2 linked regions of the Homo sapiens genome follow. The protein of the gene in region 1 purifies or fractionates together with the protein of each later gene. This does not show direct contact. Each region holds a gene or a part of one and is shown on either strand. Other genes may lie near its edges. The genes, in order: DEAF1 and AMOTL1.

Region 1 (3,817 bases):
TTATGAGGTTGGGCACGGTGGCTTACGCTTGTAATCCCAGCACTTCGGGAGGCCGAGGCGGGCAGATTGCTTGAGGCCAGGAGTTCGAGACCAGCCTGGTCAACATGGCAAAACCTGTCTCTACTAAAAATACAAAAATTAGCTGGGTGTGGTGGTGCAAACCTATAATCCCAGCTTCTTGGGAGGCCGAGGCATGAGAATTGCTTGCGCCGGGGAGGCAGAGGTTGCACTGAGCCGAGAACGTGCCACTGCACTCCAGCCTGGGCAACCCAACAAGACTCTGTCTCAAAAAAAAAAAAAAAAAAAAGAATTTTTATATTTATGAATGGTAGGTAAGTGGTAAAAGTGGTTGAAATCTTCTATTATTGAATGATTGACATTTAGGGGCTGACTTGCTAATGCATGGTGGTTCTTTTCACATCTCAGGATGGGATCTTAAACCCTCACGCTGCCTCTTGCACCTGTGCTGCCTGCTGCGACGACATGACCTTAGTAAGTGGCCAGCGTGTCTGGAACAGGATGACTTGGTGGGGCTGGGGGCGGCTGAGTGGGTCCCACAGCCCTTGGCCTCTCGGCTGTTTCCCTCCTGCCCTCTGCCTTGGAGAGAGACACTGTCCTCACTTCTCCTGGGTTGCTCTGTTCCCTCCTCCCTGATACGTCACAGTGAATCCTGATGTCTCGATGGGGAACACGTGGTTGGCCCCCAAGATGTTGCTCAAAGAACATTTGTGGAAACCTTAAATAATGAAAAGCGGTTATAATGTCACCGCCTTAACTCTAAAACTAAACATACACGCTTTTCCTTGTATGCATGCCATTTTATATTCCTCATTTTGTAACATGTCAGAAAAATGCTACTGTAAACTTATTCATGTGTAGAGCTTTTAACGCCTTTTTGACGTATTTCCTTATTCTAAATTCTTAACTGCTTCACAAAGACCCAAAATAATTTTTCTTTCTTTTTTTTTTTCTGAGACGAAGTCTCATTCTGTCGCCCACACTGGGGTGCAGTGGCGCGGTCTCGGCTCACTGCAACCTCCGCCTCCTGGATTCAAGCACTTCTCCTGCCTCAGCTTCCCGCGTAGCTGGGATTACAGGCATGTGCCACAATGCCCAGCTAATTTTTGTATTTTTAGTAGAGATGGGGTTTTGCCATGTTGGTCAGGCTGGTCTCAAACTCCTGACCACATGTGATCCGCCCGCCTCAGCCTCCCAAAGTGTTGAGATTACAGGCGTGAGCCACTGCACCTCAAAAAAAAAAAAAAAGAGCATGGAGAGACCTACCGTGTTCTTGGGGTGAAACACTAAACATCCTAGAATTGTGTAGTTGATATATAGATTTCATGTGATTCTAGTGGAAAAAACAATTTTGTGAACGTAAAATAATTTTGAAGTTGATTGGGAAAAGCCAGTCGGTGAGACTCTTAGAGACGCTGCAGGAGTAAAGGAGCCGGGAGGAGACGTCGGTCCCATTGGCAGTTGAGCCTGCAGGTAGATCATTTGCAGGGGCTCCAACACTGAAGTACTTAGATGTCAGTCTAGGAAATCATGTACAGGGTTTGTACGTGGAAGATACTAAAGAAAATGCTGAAGAGAGAGACCAGGGAAGATTGAAATACGTCAAAAGACGTCCTGCGCCCGTGGATTAGAAGACTCAGTAAAGATGCGACTTTTTCCCAAGTTGATTCGTAGGTTTAACACAATGACTATCAAAATCCCAGCAGGATTCTTTTTAGATGCAGACAAGCTGATTCTAAAATTTGCATAGAAAGGTAAAGGAAATAAAAAAGCCAAAACAGTTTTGAAACAAAAAAGCCAAAACAGTTTTGAAATAAAAGTTTAAAATGGGTGGAATCACATTGCGGGGTCTTAAGACTTACGGGCTCGTGACAGTAATCAAGATAGTGTGGCACTGGCAGAGGGAGAGACCCCACGATCTGGGTCAGACTAGAGTGTCATAGTAGACTCCAGCAAATGGCCTTGGAGTGACAGGACGTTCATCAGCAGAGACAAAGGATGACCTAAACTTCACACTTGGTACAAAAATGAATTCAAAATGGGTCATCGATCTAAAGTGAAAGGTGAAACTATAACATTTTTAGGAGAAAACACATTGGAAAATCTTCCTGACCTGGAGTTAGAACTAGGATTTCTTGGATTGGACTTCATCAAATTTTAGAACTTTTGGCTTCCGCTTGGGGAGTGGTGGTGTGATGAGCTCAGTGGACCAACTCTCCAGAGAAATAACTAGTGAAAATTGTGAAAAAATAACCCCTTAAGGTCTCCAGAAATTGTCCTAGGGGAGTACAGCAAATAAACATCCAAGAAAATGTAGTAAGTCTTGGAAAGGGCAGTGAGGATTGTGACGTTTGAGCTACGACCAGCTCCTTCCCTCCCTTTCTGCCCCCAGCTCCCTATGGTGGAGGCTCCATTGTGGGTGGTTGTGACCAAGAAAACGGTTCCCACTCCTTGCAGTTCCCGGTCAAGGGATATGGTATCTCACTGGGAGGGGCAGGCCACCAGCATTTCTCAACCCCTTCAGCTCTAAGTTGCAGTAAATTCCTGGGAAGTGTGACTGAAAATCTCTTCAGTCATCCCCACTCAGAGGGCAGAGGCTTTACCCAGGCATGGGAGGCCAAGCATACGGAGCCCCAATTTCCATCAACCCACATTGCCCATAGGGTGGGGTGTCCATGCAGTGAGAGGCTGCTGCCCCCCACACAGAACCCGGCTAATGCAACAGAATTCCCTCTGATAGACTCAGGCACTGTTCCTGCCTCTAGGTCTATAGTAGGGGCTCAGACATTCAGCCCAAAAGAGAGAGAGGCCGTAAGAACAGAGAGCTCCAAAGCCCCTCCCAAAGGAACTGACTTGATTTGAAACAGTATGGGGATGTTCAAGCCTAAAAGTGCCCTGGAAAAGAATGGACATTTTGATGGTAAGCAGTTAAGAGGAGGCCAGCAGTTCCATTAGAGCAAGAAACTAAACTGTAGGTCAGCAGGTTTACCAGAGAGGCGAGGAAAGCCACAGCGAAGAACCCATCTGGGAAACCGACCTTCAAGATCGAACCTCTCAGTAAAGAAGCCCTAATTTAATTGGCTCAGACAGTGGAGCAGTGTGTGCCCCAGGGCATTGTTGAAAGTAATGGAGCAGGCAGCTGGCAGTTAGTTGATTCTGACACTTGACTACACCAACAGCTTAACAGAGATCAGGAAGAGCGACAGCCAAAACTCCCACCACCAAAGGTGATTGCACCCCACCCAGGGCCGAGCCCTCAGAGGAGCAGCAGCCGAGGCCGCCCCAGGAGAACAGGCTCAGTAAGATAGTCCAGCTCCGTACCTGAGTAATAAACAAGCTGACAGCAGCAAGGATCCCAGAGAAAGGAGAACTGCTTTCCACTGTTGCTACAATGTATCACCTGCGGTGTCTGATTCTTAACAAAAGATGATAAGACATGCAAGGAGCCTTGGACCATACACAGGAAGAAAGCAGGCAACAGAAATTGCCTGGAGAGGTCCGGATGTTGGGGTTAACAGGAAAAAGCTTTAAAATGGCTATCCTCAGTATGTTCAGAGGACTGAAGGAAACCACAGCTAGAGATTGCATGGAAGGTCTGAAGACACTGTCTCCTCACTGGAGAATGTCAATGAAGAGATATAAATTATTTAAAAAAAAAAGTCGGCCGGGCGTGGTGGCTCACGCCTGTAATCCTAGCACTTTGGGAGGCCGAGGTGGGCAGATCACGAGGTCAGGAGAACGAGACCATCCTGGCTACCATGGTGAAACCCCGTCTCTACTAAAAATACAAAACACTAGC
Region 2 (3,817 bases), about 94 Mb from region 1:
GGGTATATTTATGTGATGAAGAGAAAGGACCGGTGGGGAGATTAGAGAAAAGGGAGGGGTTGAAGGATGGAACAATGTTTAAGAGGAAGCAGAGGAGAGGGAGTGCAGAATAGTAGACTCGCTTTGAATTGGAGAAGAAAATTCCATGAGACATTGCCAGGTAAATGGAGGTGATGATGCATTTGAAATCTTATTTTTAAATGTTGCTGTAGTTAGAATGTTAATTATGTACCACATAGTCACAGACATATATCTCCTGTGGAGCTGCCTGATATCTTTTTTCCTATGTTTATCTTTTAGTTGAAGATCCTCTTTGTAACTTCCACTCCCCAAACTTCCTGAGGATCTCAGAGGTGGAAATGAGAGGTTCCGAGGATGCGGCAGCTGGAACAGTATTGCAGCGGCTGATCCAGGAACAACTGCGGTATGGCACCCCAACCGAGAACATGAACTTGCTGGCCATTCAGCACCAGGCCACAGGGAGTGCAGGACCAGCCCATCCTACAAACAACTTTTCTTCCACGGAAAACCTCACTCAAGAAGACCCACAAATGGTCTACCAGTCAGCACGCCAAGAACCGCAGGGTCAAGAACACCAGGTGGACAATACGGTGATGGAGAAACAGGTCCGGTCCACGCAGCCTCAGCAGAACAACGAGGAACTGCCCACTTACGAGGAGGCCAAAGCACAGTCGCAGTTCTTCAGGGGGCAGCAGCAGCAGCAACAGCAGCAGGGGGCGGTGGGCCATGGTTACTACATGGCAGGGGGCACCAGTCAGAAGTCCCGAACTGAGGGGAGGCCCACTGTGAACCGTGCCAACAGTGGACAGGCGCATAAGGACGAGGCGCTGAAGGAACTGAAGCAGGGCCACGTCCGCTCGCTCAGCGAGAGAATCATGCAGCTGTCCCTGGAGAGGAATGGGGCCAAGCAACACCTTCCCGGCTCGGGGAATGGAAAGGGCTTCAAAGTAGGAGGGGGGCCCTCCCCTGCCCAGCCTGCAGGTAAAGTGCTGGACCCTCGGGGTCCTCCACCTGAGTACCCCTTCAAGACCAAGCAAATGATGTCCCCAGTCAGCAAGACCCAGGAGCACGGACTTTTTTATGGTGACCAGCACCCCGGGATGCTCCACGAGATGGTCAAGCCCTACCCTGCTCCTCAGCCTGTGAGAACAGATGTGGCCGTCCTGCGGTACCAGCCACCCCCTGAGTATGGGGTAACGAGGTGATTATCAACTGCAGACGTTTCGTGCGGCTTTTCAAAATTCAATAGTCATGTTATTAGCATTTATTATTTTCAGAGCAGATTAGGTTTTTGTCATCAGGCTTTTTTCCTTATGCATGATATTTAATAAACCACTTTGTGGCCAGAATATATAGGGTGAAATAGAGTAGAGGGCAACTGAGGGATTTTCTCCAAACATAGCAGCAGGCAGTTGGGGATTTATGAGTTTAGGGGAGGGACCTCACTTGTTAGCTGTCCTTGGGAGCTCTGCCTAGTGGCCTGGCAAAGTAGCAATTTTCCAATGGCTTTGTGGAGACCGTCCAAACTCCTGGAACATATTATTACCAGAGGGTTTTATAGTCTTTTTTCATTGTAGATTTTAAAGGAAAATGTAGTCTGAATGCTAGAATGGAGGAGTTAAAGGGACTGTAGAAATCACATAGTCCCATCCCTCACTCAACAGATGAGAAACTAAAGCCTGGAGAGATTAATGAATTTCATAGACACAACTCTGAGGCAGCTGGGGGCTACACTCAAGTATCCTGACTGCCAAAATCTATTCACTCCCTTGCCCTAATTCTTCCTACAGCCTTCACTTGTATTCTTCCAGTTGATTGATGGATTCAGCAGCACCTACTGAGTGTATGCTGTACTCTGAAGCCCTGTTCCTGGTTCAGAGATGGGGTCCCTGCCCTTCAGGACCCTATAGCATTGTCTTGGAGGAAACCAGCATCTGAACAGATCATTGCCATTCAATGTGCTGTTCTAGGAGAGAAATGGGCCGAGGATGCTAGGGTAACAGGTAGGATAGTATAACTCACAACTGGAGGGGCTGGAGAGAGCTTCCCAGAGGAGGTGACATTTGAGTTGGAACTTGAAGGATAAATCAGAGTTGTAGGGTAGAGATGAAGTAGCAGTATGTGCTGTGTGAGGGAGTGCCGTGTCTTCAGACAAAGAGGTCATGAGGATTTTTGTCTGGAATGAGTGGCAATAATGCAGAGCACTGGTGGGCAAGGGTGTGGTAAGAAGTGACAGGAGATATGTTTGGACAGGGAAGTTGGGACCCGTTTGGTTGAGGTATGTTTGGACAGGGAAGTTGATGATGACGGTCTCTGGGTGTCGTATTAAGGAGTTTAGAATGTATCCATAAGCAATCGGGAAAAGCGGTGTTCTTAGGTAGGGATGGTAAGTGGATGTCTAACAGCTGATTTTGGTGGCAGTGCATGAATTAGAGGAAAGGGAGCCCCACGCCACAAGGAGCTCCAGGGATGCTTTCAGTAGTCCAGATCAGAATTGGTGAGGGTGGCCAAAGCTTGGGCAGGGAGAATAGAGGAGCATTATGTGCTAAGAGAGGTAGGGAAATAGAACTGACAGGGTTTAGGGATTGGTTAGATACAGAAATTCTGGAATAGGGATGATGGAAATAAGGGAATTACGAATCAAACTCTCAGGAGAGAAATTGGGTCTGAAGATCACACTTTGGGAGTCAGAAATGTTTAGATGTTGCTGACATTGAAGGAGGGGCAGGGAACATGAACAGAAAAGACATGTGGCCACTGCCTATTATTGGATGTGTCATTTTCATGAAGGGCTTTATTATCTGTTTCTAAATTGAACAAGCCAGGGTTTTCCCAAGCGACCTCAGTGGCTATGTGCAGGACATACCTTGGCTGTACATCTTCTGAAAAAGGAGAGGCTGGAGGTTGGCAGAGGGAGAGTGGCCTGATCTGCCACTGGCTTCCCAGCACTGACACATTTCCCCACATTAGACTGAGAATGCCAGCTCAGAAGCAGCATAACCAACTGTGAGATCTTGGCCAGGCAGGAGAACGCATTCTCCCTAAGTGGGCATAACCGGACTCCTCCCAGGAATCCAAGATGGGATCCAGGAGGCTCTTCTTCCCCCTTTATAGCTCCTTGATCAAATCCCTGGTATTTGCATCACAGTGATTTACCACAGTTGTTTAAAATAAGCCATGATGTTATTCCACCATCATACCAGAGTTTGGCTTATTATATTTCACCCTTTTCCCTGATAACTTAACTCAGCCTCTAGAGCTTGATAGAGGGGAAGCTATCCTGAAATGAAATCCCCTTCCTCTTCTTTGCTTTACTATTTGTAAAGTAATATGTACATACCGTGCAATGCATACAGTGGATCACTTTGCCTTTTGTCATTTGGTAATAGGTGTGATGTGAGGTGGGAGAAATGGTCAGGGGAGGAGGGGAACACTTTTGGAGGTCATTTTTCTCAAAGTTATGACGTTAGAAAGAAGAAGAAATGTGTGAGGGATTTGAGCTGACTGCCAGGCTTGGCAGCTGGTTAATATGACGCATCAAATGTCTCAGGAGACGTAACAGACAGGCCATTGAGGCTGGGTCCCAGAGCCACAAGGCCCCTTTGTGAACAGGGCCATGGCTAGCCAGCATGGCTCCAGTGGTGCAGCCCTTGGCTGACTGGGTAAACAATATTGCATCCACACCAGCCCTGCTTCAGACACATTTAACGTGGCCTGAACTCGAAGGATTGGACCTGAAACTCAGCAGTGTGTCATGTTCAACTTGCCTGTGACCCAGAAGACAAGTAGGGCCCCT

What was found.
Region 2: the proteins of DEAF1 (region 1) and AMOTL1 purify together in Homo sapiens (affinity purification with mass spectrometry, with the first as the bait; one large-scale study listed by BioGRID). This does not show direct contact.

The regions. Positions count from the first base shown.
Region 1 is NC_000011.10:681,573-685,389, reverse strand, and holds part of DEAF1 (deformed epidermal autoregulatory factor 1 homolog), read left to right. Parts: intron 1-426; coding exon 427-492; intron 493-3,817. UniProt on the Homo sapiens protein: Transcription factor that binds to sequence with multiple copies of 5'-TTC[CG]G-3' present in its own promoter and that of the HNRPA2B1 gene. Down-regulates transcription of these genes.
Region 2 is NC_000011.10:94,799,090-94,802,906, forward strand, and holds part of AMOTL1 (angiomotin-like protein 1), read left to right. Parts: intron 1-300; coding exon 301-1,222; intron 1,223-1,249; exon of another isoform or gene 1,250-3,817. UniProt on the Homo sapiens protein: Inhibits the Wnt/beta-catenin signaling pathway, probably by recruiting CTNNB1 to recycling endosomes and hence preventing its translocation to the nucleus.